Homo sapiens: one gene and its partners. The protein of the gene in region 3 purifies or fractionates together with the protein of the main gene of each other region. This does not show direct contact. Each region holds a gene or a part of one and is shown on either strand. Other genes may lie near its edges. The genes, in order: CZIB, ACAD8 and GFM2.

What was found.
Region 1: the proteins of GFM2 (region 3) and CZIB fractionate together in Homo sapiens (co-fractionation; one large-scale study listed by BioGRID). This does not show direct contact.
Region 2: the proteins of GFM2 (region 3) and ACAD8 fractionate together in Homo sapiens (co-fractionation; one large-scale study listed by BioGRID). This does not show direct contact.

The regions. Positions count from the first base shown.
Region 1 is NC_000001.11:53,213,462-53,217,652, reverse strand, and holds the end of CZIB (CXXC motif containing zinc binding protein), read left to right. Parts: intron 1-793; coding exon 794-871; intron 872-1,596; coding exon 1,597-1,662; intron 1,663-2,916; coding exon 2,917-2,994; 3' UTR 2,995-3,554; downstream 3,555-4,191. Other genes in the region: CPT2 (carnitine O-palmitoyltransferase 2, mitochondrial isoform 1 precursor), read right to left, coding at 4,058-4,191.
Region 2 is NC_000011.10:134,263,499-134,266,441, reverse strand, and holds the end of ACAD8 (isobutyryl-CoA dehydrogenase, mitochondrial), read right to left. Parts: exon of another isoform or gene 2,497-2,943; intron 1,535-2,496; coding exon 1,482-1,534; 3' UTR 587-1,481; downstream 1-586.
Region 3 is NC_000005.10:74,760,514-74,764,168, forward strand, and holds part of GFM2 (ribosome-releasing factor 2, mitochondrial), read right to left. Parts: intron 3,254-3,655; coding exon of another isoform or gene 3,230-3,253; coding exon 3,167-3,229; intron 474-3,166; coding exon 389-473; intron 1-388.

The DNA of each region.
Region 1 (4,191 bases), on a different chromosome or scaffold from region 3:
AATTAAATGAGGACTCGCCTTCACGTACATAATAATCTAGTGGAAAATACAAAAAACAAGAATCGAACTAGGGCCCTAACAGAGAAGTGCCTTACCAGTGCCAGAGATGTGGTCAGTGTGCAGGAAATTACTTTACAGTGAATGACAGGATGAGACTGAATGTAGGGCATGGCACTTGTGGTCCCTAAGCCCATAGGTCAGGTAGGCATGAATTTCCTGGCCACCTGCCCCCCAAGAGGTGCCCCCTCCACATACATAACCATTTCAAAGGCTATAAGACAGCCCTCTGCCCTTACTGCATGGCAGATGGTCAGCAAAAGGCTATGGTTAAGTGTACTGGGTCTGTTTGGATGATCTAGAGACTTTGGAGCTTAACATTCTTGTTCATATTTTTGGTGTTGATAATTTTATTTACTATTTATTGAGCACTGTGCTGGGCACTTTATATGCATTTCAAAATCTGACAGTAAAATTGTAGAGGTTTCCTCGGCTCTATTTGACAGTTTAGGAATCTTGGGCCCAGAGGGGAAGATAGGCAGAGCTTACCTTACATCCAGGCAGGTTGACCCCAGCATCCACGCTCTTCTGCAGCCTCCATGTCTGCTGTCTACAGAAAGCTTCATAGGGAGCAGGTGCCCAAGGCAGGCTTCCTCTAAGAAGGGGATGAGTTCTTCCTGGGTCTCATACTAGGCCTCCAGGGGCAGTAAGTGCCCATTTGGCAGGAAGGAGAGGGGCCATGGGGTCATCCTGAGAGCTCATTTGGGCCTGCCTCCTCAACACACTTCCTTTCTAGGCTGAAGACAATGAGAACTTCAAGACAATAGTGGAGTTTGAGTGCCGGGGCCTTGAACCAGTTGATTTCCAGCCGCAGGTGTGTGTGTATCTTTCTGGGGAATCTTTGTCTTTGGGGAGGGGATGTATGAAGTGACAGCCAGAACTGTGCTACCTACAGATACCATGGACTAGACATTCTCCTTTCTAGCGGTAGTAATAATTGTCCCTTAAGTGGCTGCTGTATGCTTGGGCACCCATGCCATCATTTTTACATGTTACCACATTTAATTCTTATGGTAACCCTATGAATTTATTCATCCTGTTCTTCAGATGAGGAAGGAACTGAAGAGATTTTGCAACTTGCTCAGGGTCACACAGTAAGCAGTGGAGCTATAGTTTCAACCCAGATCTATCTGACTTGAGCTGGTGCTCATCCCCCTTTATTTGTGCATGTTTCACCTCACAACAAATCTGTGAGGTAGGCAGAAGAGCAAATACTTCATCCCCGTTTTATCAATAACTAAGGTCCAACCTGGGAAATGACATGCCCAGGAGCCTTCAGCAAACCAGGGCTAGTGGAAGGGATTACGCTGCCCCTGCTGCCTTCTGGTCCAAGGCTGTAATTCAGAGAAACCACCACTCTAGTTCTGAGGCAGCTGCCGGGTCCTGGAAGCTCAGCAGTTATTCCAAGACAGGTACTCATACTGCATCTCTGTCCTCCATCCCAGAAGTGTGAGAAGAGCCAGCAGCCTGGCCGGCCCTTACTTATAGCCCAATGCCTTCTTTTGCCAAGACTAACTGGTACCTTCTTGTGCCCTGCAGGCTGGGTTTGCTGCTGAAGGTGTGGAGTCAGGGACAGCCTTCAGTGACATTAATCTGCAGGAGAAGGTATGAGACTTGGGGGCTTTGGGAGGTACTGTAGGGCACCTGGTGGGAATTATTTTTTTGGTGGACAAGGCTCATCAATGGAAAGCCAACTCTGTATTTTTGTGCTTTTTGTTAGTGATTTTGCTGTTGAAATGGCCACAGGTATAGTGCTAAAGTGCTTTCTAATGTTCCTACGTATGAGAAAGCTATGATGCCCCTTACAGAGAGAATACGTGTTAGATAAGCTTTATTCAGGCATGAGCTATAGTGCTGCTGGCTGTGAGTTCATGAATCAACAATATATATTAAATAAGTTATCTTTAAACAGAAACACATAAAGCTAGATTATTGATTGGTTGATGAAAATGTGACCAGAGGCTCATAGGAACCTAACCCTGTATTTCCCCGGGGAGTATTCATTCAGTATTCCCTAATTCAGTGTTTGTGGTGGCTTTACTGCACCTAACTACCATGAAGAACAAGAAATAGTCTGTATTACTGGACATATTACTACCCTGCAGATAGAAAAGCCTTGTGCTCAAGCCTTGAAGGAAGGACAAAAACTTCATTTCATTTGCTCAGCACCTAATAACAGCAGCTAGCATCTACTGAGCTCTTACATGTGCCAGGCACTCACTATGCTGAGTGCTTTTATTTTATTTTATGTATTTTTTGAGACAATCTCACTCTGTCGCCCAGGCTGGAGTGCAGTGGTGCAATGTCAGCTCACTGCAACCTCTGCCTCCTGGGCTCAAGTGATCCTCCTACCTCAGCCTCCCAAGTAGCTGGGATTACAGGCGCCTGCCACCATTCCTGGCTATTTTTTGTATTTTTAGTAGAGACCGGGTTTCACCTTGTTGGCCAGGATGGTCTCGGACCCCTGACCTGAAATGATCCACCTGCCTTGGCCTCCCAAAGTGCTGGGATTACAGGCATGAGCCACCACGCCCGGCTGCTGAGTGCTTTTAAATGTGTTACCTCATTTGATTCTTTCAACATTCAATATGAACTCCATTGTCCTTTTTTTGTTTTTGTTTTTTTTAAATAGAAGACAGGACTCGGAGAAGGGACTCAGAGAAGTTAAGTGATTTGCCCACAGTCATACAACTGAAAGAGCTAGAATTCAGGCCTGAGCTATCTGGCTCTGTTCAGGGTCATACATGTTCATGATTATTTGAGTCAGAGCCTGAGCTGGGCCTTTTAAGTCCCAGTTTTCTGCTCTCCACATGGCTGCATTCTGCGTTGTGAGGCTAACAATGCCATTTTGTTTCCCAGGACTGGACTGACTATGATGAAAAGGCCCAGGAGTCTGTGGGAATCTATGAGGTCACCCACCAGTTTGTGAAGTGCTGATCCCTCTTCCTTCCCAGTTGCCCTTAAGAACTGAGAAAGGACAAAGTACTCTAAGCAGCAGAGCCCACAGAGGCTCGTTCCTTTGACCCTTGTCTCCTGGTGGCTATACGAAACCTTCACAATCTGCATGCTGGACTTTATTACAGCTTCCCAAGCCCCATCAATAAAGCCCCTGTTCACGCTGCACTGGTGCATGAAGGTGAAGTAAGGAGGCAGCTACTCCCTCCACAAATAAGAATTCGTGCAGCAGCAGTTCACTCCTTAGGAAAATGAAGAGTATTTTTAAGGAGATGGTATCTCCCCAGTCAAGGGCAAGTTTACAGAGATGAAACCGCGATCCCACCATCACTCAATGAGCCAGAAGCCAATGGTGACGTACTGTTACCTGAACTTACTGAACTTGCTGTTGGAAAGATCTTTGTGAGGATTAGGAATTAGGTTAAAAGAAATTAAGAACCATCTTCAAGCAAAAATTAAACTTTATTTCTGCTTAAACAATAAATACACCTGAGTTAGTTTTCCAAACCTTTCCTCCTGATTAAATGCCCTTAAAACTTAAATCTCTTGTTATCTTCAGTTGTGATCTAGTCCCAAGTGGAAATTACGTTTAGCTTTAAAACCATGAATTTAAAGCTCAAGCCTGTAGCTGGCTGCCTAGGCAGCTTATGATTAGTTTCACAGAATAGCACCCACTGGCTACACAGGCCCCAGTTTTTTTTTCTTTTTTGTTTTTTTGAGACAGTCTCGCTCTGTCGCCCAGGCCGGAGTGCAGTGGTGTGATCTCAGCTCACTGCAACCTCCACCTCCTGGGTTCAAGCAATTCTGCTTCAACCTCCCAAGTAGCTGGGATTATAGGCACATGCCACCACACCCAGCTAATTTTTGTATTTTTAGTAGAGACAAGGTTTCACCATGTTGGCCAGGTTGGTCTCAAACTCCTGACCTCAAGTGATCCACCCGCCTCAGCCTCTCAAAATGCTGGGATTACAGGCATGAGCCACCATGCCCGGCCTCCCAGTTTTCATGATGAGGAAGTGATGGTAGCTTTTCATCTGCCCAGAAGTTAACTTTTGATGGATTTGCCTTCTAAGGCATCAAACATGTCTTCTAAGGCCTTCTCCACACATTGGAGAAACTCCCGGGCATTGCGGCCTGGGTAGGAAGAGACATTGCAGCCTATCCAGTTGTCATGAACAG
Region 2 (2,943 bases), on a different chromosome or scaffold from region 3:
TGCAGCACCCAAAACTTCCTTCATTCAAAAAAGACAGTATTTGTTGTTGTTACAGACACATATTCTCTTCTCTCTAAACATTGGCTTGTAGTTAATGTCTTGCGTATTCTTTTCAATAGGGATGAGGGGATGGAGTAACATAGTAAGTTATAACAGAGCTCCCCTGGCTGGGCACAGTGGCTCACACTTGTAATCCCAGCACTTTGGGAGGCCGAGGTGGGCAGATCACTTGAGGCTAGGAGTTTGAGACCAGCCTGGCCAACATGGTGAAACCCTGTCTCTACTAAAAATACAAAAAGTAGCCGGACGTGGTGGCTTGCGCCTGTAGTCCCGGCTACTTGTGAGGCTGAGGCAGGAGAATCGCTTGAACCCCAGAGGAAGAAGTTGCAGTGAGCTGAGATTGTGCCACTGCACTCCTGCCTGGGCGACAGAGCGAGACTCTGTCTCAAAAACAACAAAAAACAGCAAACAAACAAACAAAACAAGGTCTCCTGAAGTCCCATCTGTGAATCTCACTTTAATTCTACTTTCATACATCATAAACAATGCTTAGTTTGCAAAGTTATTAATAATTTAAGGAGCCTGCTTTTTAAAAGCCAAATTGGACGAGAGTTTTATTATTCCAAAATCCAGTTAAGTGTTTAATCAAATACAATTAAACATTTAAAATAAAAATCAACTATAGTAGAACCAGAGGTGGTGAAGGATAGATTTTATCAATGTGATTAAAAATATTTAAAAGGAGGAACAGCTTCAGAAAAGGAAACAAAAACACAAAAAAAATATTCAAAGTGTTTATCAGGAAAAGAAACACTGAATAGCACTCCTAGACCACAGGCTTCTTAACATGAAACCCAACGAATATTCAAAATTCAAAAGTCTCAGCCCTTGATATTGAGGCAGTCCAGAAGTAGAAATACACCCTAAATCACAGCTTAGGAGTAAGTTTCCAAATATCCATTTTATCATGATTTACATTCAGAGGTGTGCTATCCAGAGAAACCTTCTGCATCTGTAGCTGTGGCACAGAGAACGACACAGACAGGAGGGCATTCCTCCATTTCCCCTTCCCACACCTTTGCTCTAGAATCAGGAAGAGCATCAGTGAAAGTCCCCAGGCCCCTAGAGGAGGGATCCAGTGAACTAGTAAAATGCAGACTAATCAAGATAAAGTGGATCCAAGAAAGGACTTTCATGGTTTGACGGTGAATCTTCACTGGTCACCCTTCTGGCATTAGGAAAACAAGGTAGTATGTGTTCTTCTGATGTTTCTCATCAGTCCAGCTCTTCCGGTTCCACTGGGGATTCTGCCCCAGTCCAAGACCCGATGCTGGTGCCAACACACAGGGTGCAGGTCCTGCCCTAGAGGAGCTCAGCCCTTGGGTCTAATCCATGATTCCTTTGGAATAGAGCGGCCCACATGGCACCACTCAACACTGACTGCAGTCGCACTGAACACCAGGCCAGAACAAGTGTGGGTTCTACTCCTGAAGCAGGCTTCTAGAGATCAGTATCCTCATCACTTCATTGCTACCTGTAAGAGGGAGGAAGGAGGAAGAATTTCACAGCAGCAAAGTCTGAGAGTTTAGTAAAGCTCTGACCAGGCTGCTCCAGGCCTAGTTCAGAGTAGCTGCAGATTTAAACTACAATCATTGCTTTTAGCCTGGGAGAGATGAGATTATCAGAGACTTCTCTACAAAGTACTGAAAAATGTCAGGAAATAATACTTTTTTAAAAACTTCTTCTGATGGTAAAAATGCTTATATAAAGTTTAAAAAGGCAGAATAAAAACAGTATATACAGGATAATTCTAATTAAAATTAAAAATGTACCAACAAAGGCAGAGTAAAATGCCTAAAAGGAGATGTACCAAAATAACATTCTGGATGTAGAAACATGAGTGATTTTTTTTCTTTTACTTTTCTTTTGAGACAGTCTTGCTGTCGCCCAGGCTGGAGTGCAGTGGTGTGATCTTGGCTCACTGCAACCTCCGCCCCCCAGGTTCAAGCAATTCTCTTGCCTCAGCCTCCTGAGTAGCTGGGACCACAAGCATGTGCCACCAGGCCCCACCAGGCCCGGCTAATTTTTTGTATTGTTTTTAGATGGAGTCTCACTGTCACCCAGGCTGGAGTGCGATGGTGCAATCTCAGCTCACTGCAACCTCCACCTCCTGGGTTCAAGCGATCTTCCTGCCTCAGCCTCTCGAGTAGCTGGGATTCCAGGCATGCACCACCACGCCCAGCTAACTTTTTATAATTTTAGACAGTCGGGGCTTCACCGGGTTGGCCAAGCTGGTCTCGAACTCCTGGCCTCACGCGATCCACCCGCCTCAGCCTCCCAAAGTGCGGCGATTATAGACATAAGCTACCGCACCCAGCCTACTTTTCCTAATTTTATAAGGTTTCAACAATAAATACACATTTCTTTGGTAATCAGAAAACTGACTTACAAAAGAATGAAAACATTTTCCCTGAAAGGAGGGTATCAATTATTTGCTTCATTTTTAGCAGTGGCCTTTAATGCAAAAAGAAATATAAACCCCCTCGAGGAATCAGTAGTCACATCGTCTCAAATAAAGCATAAACTGTAGATTTATCCAACAGTAAAGTCCATGATGAAACAAAGTGATACAGTGATGAGTGCCCCAATTCTTCTGTAAGTGGGTGATGGTGTGGCCTACAATAAATGTTTTCCTGCTTATTATTGCAGGGTGGAGAGAGAGTTAGAATGAAGGCGAAGTTTCCTACGCACATAAAGCTCAGTGAGAAAGCAATTCCAAGAGTAATGGAAGGAAAACGACTCTCGGGAATTCAGTTTGAACACTGGCGACTGAGCCCATAAACATCTTTCTGGAATGAGGTTTGCAGAAGAAAGCAGCGGTCTAACCTGTGGTAGCCTGTGACTCTGACATTAACACCAGAGCGGTGGGTCTCAAAGTGTGGT
Region 3 (3,655 bases):
ACTTATAACAATCCTCAAAATAAATTATTCTAGTAAATCTCTCTTGACAGAAAACACTTGCATAAAAAACAGAAATAAACTAGAAAAAGAAATTCACAAGAGCACTCTACAATTACACTCACATGTTAAACTTGCAAACTAGCTACTAAAGCCACCAACCTTTCCTTTGCTCAGTTCATCAGCGTGTTCCTCAGATAAGGAGCACAACTCTACTAGTATTTCCTTCTGGCACCTATCTGAACACTCCCGCCCCTAATAATCTCAAGGAAATAGCCAAGAAGTAAAAAATGGTTACAGAGCCCTAATAAGGGAGATTCTTGCAAACAAGAGAGAGAAAAGAGATAAAGCAAACAGCTTAGATAAAATTAGAAGACTCTAACATTTGTACCTGGTAGAGAACTGCAATTTCTTCCAAGCGGCACATGTGGCTTTAATCTTTTTAAACTTGCTCTTATTTTATAGCAGCATATATTCTAGTAAAGAGAAAAAGAAACTTGGCATTAATTTTATTTTAGCATCACTTATTACAGTGTTAATATTGTAATTACGCTTTGTCAGAAGATAAAATATTTTGTATAGCTTTAAAGTAGTCCTAATTTATTAACTCCAATTCTTTTAAAAAGTGACAATCCAAATATATCCTAGGGGAAAGAATAAGGATAAAATTAATACTGATTTGCTATTTTGAGCTGACCTTAAAACAATGGTTTTCCTCAACCTGCAGCATTAGCATGGGCTGAGGGCTTGTTTGAAAAACATGCTTAGGCTCCAATCCAGACAAGAGAATCAGAAACTCTTGGGGATGGAGCCAAACAATCTGTTTAAACTAGCTCTCCAGTTGATTCTAATAGCTACAGATTGAGAACCACAACCCTAAAGTTCTGAAAGTCAGAAGCTGAGTCAGAAAGGTTAAATAAGGTATCTCACCCAGGATACACCTTGGTTTTCCTCTACATCTGCTGAAAGGTCTGTAGGGGGCAATGAACTCTAAAACCATTAGTTGTTTTCAGGATTTATTACAGTTACACATTAGAATCATCTGGAAAGCTTCTTGAAGACACGGGGGTGGGGAGAGAAAATGAGAACTGGAGGAACTGGGCAGTGGCATTTAAAAAAAATTCCCAGGGTGTCTCCAATGTAGCATTCAACTGAGAATCACTGAGTTAGAGCAGGTCTGCTTAAGGCCAAGCCTACCTCCTCTACCTTAGCTGCTTACCTAACCTTCTCATGTTCTCATGTAAAGGCTGAATATTCTCCACCTCAGTTTATGCCCAGACCACTAGATATACATTTAATAGCTGCCAATGTAGTTGGAATTGTTAGTGTATGTAATGATTTAGGGCCACCACAATCTGCTTTTTGTTTCATGAACTGCGTATCTGTGCGATCTATATTATTTCTACATTAGTTACCAAGTTTCTGGCAATAATAAGCTACTATCCTCAGAAAATAATTCCACTGCATAATGACTAGGATAAGACCCAGTGTCTATCACAGCGTGCATAGTCTGAAAGCGTCAGCAATAAAAGCACTGAAGAAAAACTGGGTAACTCCTTGGGCCACTTAATGAGATCACAAATGGAATACAGAAATATATCTTCTTCAAAATGCTGCTCAGGTGATTTTTAAAGTAGCAAAAAAAAATTGTAGATGAATGGTAAGGCTTCTTAGCAACAACAACAAAAAAACTGTAGACGAATGGTAAGGCTTCTTAAGGGTTACAGGTTCTCCCATACAGCAGTCACACCCTATCCACAGGGGTTATATTCCAAGACCCCCAGTGGATTCCTGAAACCTCAGATAGTACAGAACCTAATTACTATCAATCAGAACATGGTTCTGTTCATGTCTTCTGCCCACAAACTGAATACCTTTTCCATCTTAACTGAGCTCTTATCATGTTATGTGACCATAATTTTTGTAGTTTGAAGTGCAACAGTAAAACTAGCAAAAATGTCTTTTTCTTTCTTCACAATTTCATGGATAGAAGATTCATTCCTACCATAGATCTTAGCAACCTCAGCATATGATTTGTTTTTTTCCTTATTAAGCCAAGAATGTTCACCTTTTCACTTAAAGGGAGCACTTTATGGCTTCTCTTTGGCACATCCAAATTGCCAGCATCACTACTCTTGCGCTCTGGGACCGTGATTAAGTAAAATAAAGGTTACTTGAACACAAGCACTGCAGTATCACAACAGTGAATCTGATAACCCAGATGGCTACTGACTCATGGGTGGGGAGTGTATACAATGTGGATATGCTGGGCAAAGGAATGACTCACCTCCCAGGTGGGATTAAGTGGGATGGCATGAGATTTCATCACAGTACTCAGAATGGCACACAATTTAAAACTTATGAATTATTTCTGGAATTTCCCATTTAATTTTCAGACCACAGTTGACTCTGAGCAACTGAAACAGCTAAACAGCAAAACCATGAATAAGGGGAAACTATTGTACTCCCTGTTAAGTCACTGAAGATAAAAAGAAACAACCCAAACAAGCTTTAAAGTAATCTCTCACTTAGCTATAGATAAAAAGGGTATTATTATGTTTGAGATTTAATATCTTTAAGTATACTGAAGATGTGATAGTTTAGAAAATAATTTATAGTGTTTTGAAGAGGATTCAGGAGTCAGACCAGAGCTAAAGACTAAAACAATGTTCCTGAGACAAATATCAGACTGCCGAAGAAGCTGGCTTCCAACAGCTCTGCAGAAGACAGCCAAAAGTAGTTGTATCAACCATTGTATAATTATGTTGTACTTTGATATTAACAGAAACTTTATTTCATAAGAGTCTCAATCCATGGATACTTAATATTACAAAGCACATTATTTGTTAGTAGTTTAAAGATGTGCATTAAGTGATGACATTCTTAGATATAAAACCCTACCCCTCCTTCAAAAACAACTGGCATTTTAGTACTCCATGAGACCAGTATTTAGCTACAGCTGTTCTTTTACTTTTAAATTAAGGTAATTTCCTCTTATATTTCTTAATAAATTAAGGTAATTACTTTCAAATTAGTTTAGCTTGAAGATTTCCAAAGGTTATGACTCAACTAAATTTGGAATCAACAGCTGATGAGATATACTGGGCATTTTAGGCAGTAAAGGAGCTGAGGTTGTTAAAGGACACTTAATTTTATAAGAAATGCTTACATTAATATACACACTGGGTATTGTCTGATGACTCATTGCAAATATCCTCAAGTTGGTCAACATCTTGATCCTCCAAACTGTTACTGTCTGAAAAAATAAATATACAAAATCAAAAAACTAAACTTATGTATTACATGTCAGCAAGGCATATGTAAGTTAGACATATGTAATATGTATGGTAAAATGTATTACTTTTAAAAAGTTGGAACAATATTTTTAGCTACCAAAAATTCAATGCATCATTCAGAAAATGGAAAATTCTGATTAAATATGAGAAATATGGTTTTTAGGTTTAAAATGTCCCTTATTTGTCAATGTAATGTTTAAAGAAAGATATGGCGATACAGTAGAAATCAACTTATTGAAATTACAAAACATTGTATCAACCAAAATGCATTGTTATGTAAATGTATAGAATTAAGCATAAAAAGCTAAGCATCCACATATTAACTTGGTAATTTCTAATTGGCAGTAAAATTTATTGATTCA